Regions from separate parts of the Homo sapiens genome. Here regions 1 and 3 are each linked to region 2. Evidence: fine-mapped expression QTL. A gene starts in region 2. Each other region holds a variant in brackets. All regions are shown on one strand. Distances are between the middles of the regions. Region 1 has its middle 5.3 kb from the start of KRT18. Region 2 holds the start of KRT8 (keratin 8). Region 3 has its middle 19 kb from the start of KRT78.

Region 1 (2,680 bases), 50 kb after region 2:
GAAACACTTCTGAGAGACAGAGGAGGGAGCAGTAGATGTGATGGGTCACAGGCTGTGGGGATCCCTACAAGGGAATTGTGGAATCTTTGCCTTGAAGCGATCTGGTGTTCAAAAGGTCCCTGACTGATCATTAGCAGAAATCTGAACCAGAGGAGGAAATTAGGCCAAAGACAGAGGACAGAGGAGACAGGGAGACACATCTGGCCCTCCCCTACCCTGCTGCTTTATGCCCTTGGCCCACTGCCCAGGGCTTCCCACCCACAGTTTTTTCCTCCAACCCCAGGCCATACTCATCCTCCAAACCTATGGTGCCCTCAACTCTGTTCATTCACTCAACGGAGATATGATTTTTAGGGTGCTAGAGGTCTGGCTAGAAGTTGAGTAAATGATCATGGAAGTTCCCATCTAGGAAAGAGGTGCCCCTGAGTAAGCACCCGTATAGGTAAGGATGGGCATCTTAAAACTAACCGAGGCTGGGCACAGTGGCTCACATCCGTAATCCCAGCAGTGCCACCACACCCGGCTAATTTTTGAATTTTTCATAGAGTTGGGATTTCACTATATTGCCCAGGCTGGTCTGGAACTCCTGGCCTCAAGTGATCCTCCCGCTTGTACCCTTTGGAGTGATTGGATGCCACTTTGTGTCTTCCTTGGCTGTTTTCATACTTGTGTGAAAATGCCCTAACCCAACATGATTACATGTAGATATTCGTTGCAGCAGTTTTGCCAAAACAAAACTACTAAAGATCAAGGCACCCATCACTCAAAGACCTAGGTTAGGTTAATTTTTTTTTTTTTTTTTTTTTTTTTTGAGGCAGAGTCTTGCTCTGTCACCCAGGCTGGAGTGCAGTGGCGCGATCCGGGCTCACTGCAACTGCCTCCTGGGTTCGAGGGATTCTTCTGCCTCAGCCTCCTGAGTAGCTGGGATTTCAGGGGCCCGCCACCATGCCTGGCTAATTTTTGTATTTTTAGTAGAGACGGGGTGTCACCTTGTTGGCCAGGCTGGTCTCGAACTCCTGACCTCGTGATCCGCCCGCCTCGGCCTCCCAAAATGCTGGATTACAGGTGTGAGTCACCACGCCCGGCCTAGGTTAATTTTTAAAATGTTGGGTTAAGGCAAAAAAAA[T/A]TTTTTTAATTTAAAAATTAGCCAGGCATGGTGACATGTACCTGTAGTCCCACTTAATCAGGAGGCTGAGGTGGAAGGATTGCTTGAGTCCAGGAAGTAAAGGTTGCAGTAAGCTGTGATCATGCCACTGCATTTCAGCCTAGGTAACAGAGTGTGACTCTGTTTCACAAAAAAAAGCTGGCCGGGCACAGTGGCTCACGCCTGTAATCCCAGCAATTTGGGAGGCCGAGGCGGGCAGATCACAATGTCAGGAGATTGAGGCCATCCTGGCTAACATGGTGAAACTCTGTCTCTATTAAAAGTACAAAAAATTAGCCAGGCAGCTGGGTGTGGTGGCTCATGCCTGTTATCCCAGCACTTTGGGAGGCCAAGGCGGGCGGATAACTTGAGGTCAGGAGTTCGAGACCAGCCTGGCCAACATGGTGAAACCCTGTCTCTACTAAAAATACAAAATTAGCTGGGTGTGGTGGCACATGCCTATAATCCCAGCTACTTGGGAAGTTGAGGCAGGAGAATCGCTTGAACCCAGGAGGTGGAGGTTGCAATAAGCCGAGATCATGCCATTGCACTCCAGCCTGGGCAACAAGAGCGAAACTCTGTCTCAAAAAAATATATATATATAATATATATATGTGTGTGTATGTATATATGTGTGTATATATGTATATATGAGTATATGTGTATATATGAGTATATGTGTATATATGTGTATATGTGTATATACATATGTGCATATATGTGTGTGTATATGTGTGTATGTATATATATACATATATACATACATATATATATATATATACATACACACATACACACACACACACATATATATGAAATAAAATTTAAAATCTTGCTGGGCATGGTGGCTCATGCCTGTAATCCCAGCACTTTGGGAGGCCAAGGTGGGTGGATCATCTGAGGTTGGGAGTGGAGAAACTCTGTCTCTACTAAAAATACAAAATTAGCCAGGCGTGATGGCGCATGATTGTAATCCTATCTACTTGGGAGACTGAGGCAGGAGAATCGCTTGAACCAAGGAGTTGGAGGTTGCAGTGAGACGAGATCGAGCCACTGCACTCCAGCCTGGCAACAGAGCAAGACTCTGTCTCAAAAAAAAAAAAAAAAAAAATAGCCATGCGTAGTGGCATACACCTGTAGTCCCAGCTACTTGGGAGGCTGAGGCAGGAGATTTGCTTGAACCCAGCAGGCAGAGGTTGCAGTGAGTGAAGATCGCGCCACTGTACTTCAGCCTGGGTGACAGAACAAGACTCCATCTCAAATAAATAAATAAATAAAACTAAATAAAATAAAATCTCCCCTCTCCACTCCCTAGAAGTAACCACTGTTAAATACCTTTTAAAATTAGACATATACAAGCACATTTCATTATGTTTTATATATGTAAAATTATCCAGCTCTGCATCTTGATTTCTTTTTTTATTTTTTTTTAATTGAGACAGAGTCTCACTCTGTCGCCCAGGCTGGAGTGCAGTGGCACCATCACGGCTCACTGCCACCTCTGCTTCCCGGGTTCAAGCGATTCTCCTGCCTCAG
Region 2 (2,669 bases):
CAGGATTTCCCTCCTCCCGTTCCCACAATGCCTCCCAGGAGCCAGTCAGCGTGAAGGGCCCAATCCTCGGGGCCGCCGGGGGCCCGGGGCCCCTCAGGCAGCGGAGTCCCAGGGCTGCAAAACCCGGCCTGGCTCCTGCTGTGTGAAAGTGGAGCCAGGCCGCTGGGGCGGAGCAGGGACAGGACGCGAGAAAGGGACACGGGCTGAATGGGCGAGGGGCGTTGGTGGGCGACCGCGTTATCTGAAGCCATAAACTTAACAGGACGTAAACCCCGGGCGGGGCGTCCCACGCCCGCAGACTTTGAATCCTGCATGGGCTTTCCGAGGCCAGGCCCTGGCGCCTCCTCCACCCCACCCCAGCCCACCCCACCCCACCCCACCCCACCCACACCGCCCCCGACGCCGAGCTCCGCCAGGTGGAGGAGAGCGTCCCGAGACTGCTGCCCGCAGCCCCTCACCCCGCCCTCGGCCCCGCCCACGCTGCCGGCGCAGGGGCCGGGGTATGACTCATTCTGTGACCCCCGCACTCAGGCCTCCGGGCGCCAAAGGCCTCAATCAATATTTGCCCGTTTGAACCGAGACACCCACTTCCTTCTCCTAGAATGCTAGAATCACACCAAACCCCTATGTAAAAAAAAGAAAAGAAAGAAAAAAAATCACAAAGGCACCACTGGGGAGCCCTTGGGGTAGTGCTGGCGAAGAGGCGAACCTGGAGGAGGGTAGTCCCCGAACAGCTGGGACTGCCGCAGGGCGATAGCTTAAAAGACGGTCAGAACTCGGGTTGGGGTGAGAACAATAACCGCTATTATTTTTTATAATTTGGGGACAGAATGACCTGAGGAAGAACGGGATTTGTAGAGAGGGGTGGTGGGAACTAGGCTGTACCCTTAAGTTGTCTCTCTCTTCCAAGACCCTCCAGTTTAAAAGGGAAGAAGGAAGCCCCAGGATTCATCCCGGCTGTCCAGACCCTCTCCCCACCCTCACCCAGCCCAAACCAAGGTGCACGGGAGGGGTGAGTCGGAGGATGGAAGGGAGAGTGTCGCCAGGGCGGGTGAGGCCCAGCAGGACGCCAGCTGGGGGCTGGAGATGTGCATAGGGACCGGGACTACCAGGAGAAAGGGGCTGCGGGCACAGTCAGCCACGCAGGGGGGACCCTCACCTTGTCTATGAAGGAGGCAAACTTGTTGTTGAGGGTCTTGATCTGCTCCTTCTCCTGGGTGCGCACGGCCTGGATGTTGGGGTCCACCTCCAGGACAAGGGGGCTCAGCAGGCTCTGGTTGACCGTAACTGCGGTGATGCCTCCCATGCCGCTGGCCCCACCATAGCCGCCGCCCAGGCCACCGCGAAAGTTGCTGCTGCCCACTCGGGAGAAGCTCGAGGAGCTGATGCGGGAACCGGGCCCACTCGTGTAGGAGCGGCTGCTGAAGGCCCGGGGGCCAGAGGTGGACACCTTGTAGGACTTCTGGGTCACCCTGATGGACATGGTAGAGGCAGGAGTGGAGGCAGGCGGGCCGAACCAGGCGGAGATCCTAGAAGGAGCGGAGAAGCTGCTTCTTGGTGAGGAGAGCTCTCAGGAATGGCCTTTTATAAAAGAGATCCCAGCCCCGGGGGATGGGGGGGAAAGGCCTCGTACCTGAGTGGCTAGGCCCAGAGGGGGCTGGGCCTAACCCGTCACCTGCCACCTCCGGGCAGGACTCAGGTGGGGGCAGCAGAGAGCTGCCGCCACCCAAGGGCCCGTTCCAACCCTGGAGCCCACTCCAGCACCACCCCCAGAAACCCAGGAAAAGGCAGTTCAGTGAATATGAAACTGGAAGAAATCCTGTCCTGGCACAAGTGCCTGTAACAAGCAGACTTGCCTGGGCCGCCCAGCCACTACAACCCTGACTCCTGGGTCTTGTCTCCCTCCCTCCTGGGGGAAATAAACTGGAGGACTGGGAAGCATGGGAAAAAGGGGTCTCCTAGTATTTGGGTCTCCTCTGAGCTGCCGACACCCCAGAGAAACTCTCCTGTGTTCTCCCTGATTGAAGCGATTATGAGGGCCTGCCTGAGCTGGATGACAGAACAGCTGGAGTCCAAAGCCTTGAATCTGAAATCAACCATTTGCCTCATCTTTCCAGGTTACTGTTCTACCCCTAGCACCTGGTGCAGTGCCAAGAGGGTCTGGGTAGATATTTGTGGAATGAATGAATGAATAAATAAATGAGTGAATAAACATCACACGCGCACACACACACACACACACACACATACACATACACACACAGTGGCTGTCGTCCCTCTACATCTGAAGGTGCAAGATAAAAAGAGATCCAAGGCCAGGCACGGTGGCTCACGCCTGTAATCCCAGCACTTTGGGAGGCTGAGGTAGGCGGATCACGAGGTCAGGAGTTCAAGACAAGCCTGACCAACATGGTGAAACCCCATCTCTACTAAAAATACAAAAATTAGCTGGCCATGGTGTAATCCCAGCTACTCAGGAGGCTGAGGCAGGAGAATCACTTGAACCCGGGAGGCAGAGGTTGCAGTGAGCTGAGATCGTGCCACTGCACTCCAGCCTGGGCGACAGAGCGAGATTCCATCTCAAAGAAAAAAAAGAGCGAGATCCAACACAGCACTTTTCCTGAACATAACCCAGGGGCTTCCTCTCCTTCCAAGATCCTAGGATCCCC
Region 3 (2,680 bases), 37 kb before region 2:
AGGAGACTGAGGCACAAGAATCACTTGAACCTGGGAGGCTCGGGTTGCAGTGAGCCAAGATCGCCCCACTGCACTCCAACCTGGGTGACAGAGCAAGACTCAGTCTAAAAGAAAAACAAAAAATCCGGGCGTGGTGGCTCATGCCTGTAATCCCAGCACTTTGGAAAGCTGAGGCGGGTGGATCACCTGAGGTCAGAAGTTCGAGACCAGCCTGACCAACATGGAGAAACCCCATCTCTACTAAAAATACAAAATTAGCCAGGCATGGTGGTACATGCCTGTAATCCCAGCTACTCCGGAGGCTGAGACAGGAGAATCACTTGAACCCGGGAAGCAGAGATTGCGGTGAGCTGAGATCACGCCATTGCACTCCAGCCTGGGCGACAAGAGCGAAACTCTGTCTCAAAAATAAATAAATAAATAAGGAGGGATAATCATTCCTATATCCTAGGGCTGTTGTGTGTGTTAACCAAGATGACACGTGCAGAGTGCTCAGAACAGTGCTTAGCACAGCAGTGCCCACCAACTATTCGATTTTTTTTTTTTTTTTTTTTTGAGACAGAGTCTCGCTCTGTCACCCAGGCTGGAGTGCAGTGGTGCTATCTCGGCTCACTGCAAGCTCCGCCTCCCAGGTTCATGCCATTCTCCTGCCTCAGCCTCCAGAGTAGCTGGGACTACGGGCGCCCGCCACCAGGCCCAGCTAATTTTTTGTATTTGTAGTAGAGACAGGGTTTCACCGTGTTAGCCAGGATGGTCTCGATCTCCTGACCTCGTGATCTGTCTGCCTTGGCCTCCCAAAGTGCTGGGATTACAGGCATGATCCACCGCGCCCGGCCTCGATTTTATTATTATTATCATTATTATCATTACTATCTTCTGAGCCCCACTCCCCACCAGGCTTGGCCTACTAGATGCTGACTTGCCTGGATCTCCTCTTGCTCTCACTGTCATCTGAGGACAACCATCCCTTCTGGCTCCCTGAGATGAGAGGGGAAGAGACAGAGAGAAAGAAAGAAAATGTGTAGGGACAAGGGTATACAGGGAGCTTGTAAGATGTGTGTAAATAAATGGGGGGGGAGCATGAGTGCGAAGGTGCAGAGATCATCTATGATCATGCAGGGGCATGTGCGGGCCAGTAAAATCACAGGGGCTATGAAAGTGACACAGTTATGTGTGAGTGCGCCAGGCATCGGTGTATGTGGAAGGGTGGGGTGGGAATGTGTACCTTCTGGGATGGGTATAGTGGATGCTTGCATG[C/T]ATCAGTGTGCAAGGGTATGTGTGAGAAAGACAGAAGCTAGGCATGTGTGTATGGGGGTGTGTTATAAATGTGCAGGTGCGGGTGTGTGAAGGTTGTGTGTGAATGTTCACCTTCCCCACCTCCACCCCAAACACATATCTCTTGGTAAGGGGGCTTCAACAGAGACAAAAGTACCCCAGGCTGAGAGAACAGTGTTCCTGACTCTGGAACAAACGATATTTTTCTCTTTCAAAGCTTTCAGATTTCCTGAAGAAGAGCTGCTAGCTCAACCAAGCTCAGCCTTAAACCCGCCCCTCTGATCGAAACTAAGGAAGGAAACCAGCACCAGCCACCCCCGCCCTGCACCCCCACCCCTGCCAGGGAATGCTCTATGCCAGCAGAACGCACGCCACGCCCCCCATTTCTCCCTCCCCGCTTGGGCCCACGTGCTCTCCCCAGCCACTCAGGGTGCCCAGGGCAGCTCCCAACCACCAACAGAAGTTTAAGCCCCTCTCCAGGCTTTGGGAGCACTTTGCTACCTGCCCAGGCAGGCACTACCCTAGGGCAAGCAGGCCACTCCCTGCCAGGGGGAACTGAGAGGTGGGGGGTAGGGGGTGGCAGCTTCAGAACACACAACCAACCCCCTTCCCGGGAGGCAGGCACTCCACCCCACCCCGCATCTCTTCAAGAAGACAAAATCAGGAAAGAGGGCTGGGTGGGGAGGGCATCTCAGGAGGAAAGGGTCACTTAGAGGCAGGGTTTGAATGTCAAGAATGTCCCTTCCTTTCATTCAAGGGTCCCAAAGAAGACCATTCTTCCAGGAAGTTGTCTCAGTTGTCAGTAGTATTATATGTATCAAGAATAATTAGGCCAGGTGCAGTGGCTTACGCCAGTAATCCCAGCACTTTGGGAGACCAGGGCAGGTGAATCTACTTGAGCCCAGGCATTCAAGACCAGCCTGGGCAACAAAGTGAGACCCCCACGTCTCTACAAAAAAAAAAAAAAAAGGAAATTTGCTGGATGTAGTGACTCATGCCTATAGTCCTAGCTACTTGGAAGGCTGAGGCAGGAGGATCACTTGAACCCAAGTGTTTGAGGCTGCAGTAAGCCATGATCGCACCACTGCACTGCACTCAGCCTGGGAGACTGAGGGAGACCCTGTCTCAAAAAAAAAAAAAAAAAAAAAAGAAGTAGAATTATCACTTAATGTTCAACTACTACATGCCAGGTGCTTTACATAGCATACCTCTGATTAATCGCATATTATAGATGGGGAAACTGAGGCTTGGTTGTCCTAGATCACACAACCAATAGTGGCAGAGTGAGAATCTGAACCCAGGACTATCTGTAAAGCATTTCTCAGGTCTATGCCTGCATCTGTCTGTTCTCCAGCTGGAATAGCCACCCCTCCACCAGAGGGGATGGAGGAATCCAAAGAGAGAA

Evidence for each region. PIP is the estimated chance that this variant, and not a neighbour inherited with it, causes the effect. A credible set is the group of variants that fine-mapping cannot tell apart.
Region 1: its variant is the best candidate, but not a certain one, in a credible set for the expression of KRT8 in whole blood (TOPMed, PIP 0.89).
Region 3: its variant is the best candidate, but not a certain one, in a credible set for the expression of KRT8 in whole blood (INTERVAL, PIP 0.65).

What each region holds. Positions count from the first base shown.
Region 1 is chr12:52,953,053-52,955,732 of GRCh38, forward strand. No RefSeq gene overlaps it. Among named protein-coding and RNA genes, the nearest start is that of KRT18, 5.3 kb to the left of the region's middle. The variant T/A (reference allele first, on the strand shown) is at 1,127.
Region 2 is chr12:52,903,499-52,906,167 of GRCh38, forward strand. KRT8 (keratin 8) reads right to left here and starts at 1,578. Exons shown (of 8, transcript NM_002273.4): 1 at 1,160-1,578. The coding sequence starts at 1,483. RefSeq lists a silencer at 349-518.
Region 3 is chr12:52,866,175-52,868,854 of GRCh38, forward strand. No RefSeq gene overlaps it. Among named protein-coding and RNA genes, the nearest start is that of KRT78, 19 kb to the left of the region's middle. The variant C/T (reference allele first, on the strand shown) is at 1,258.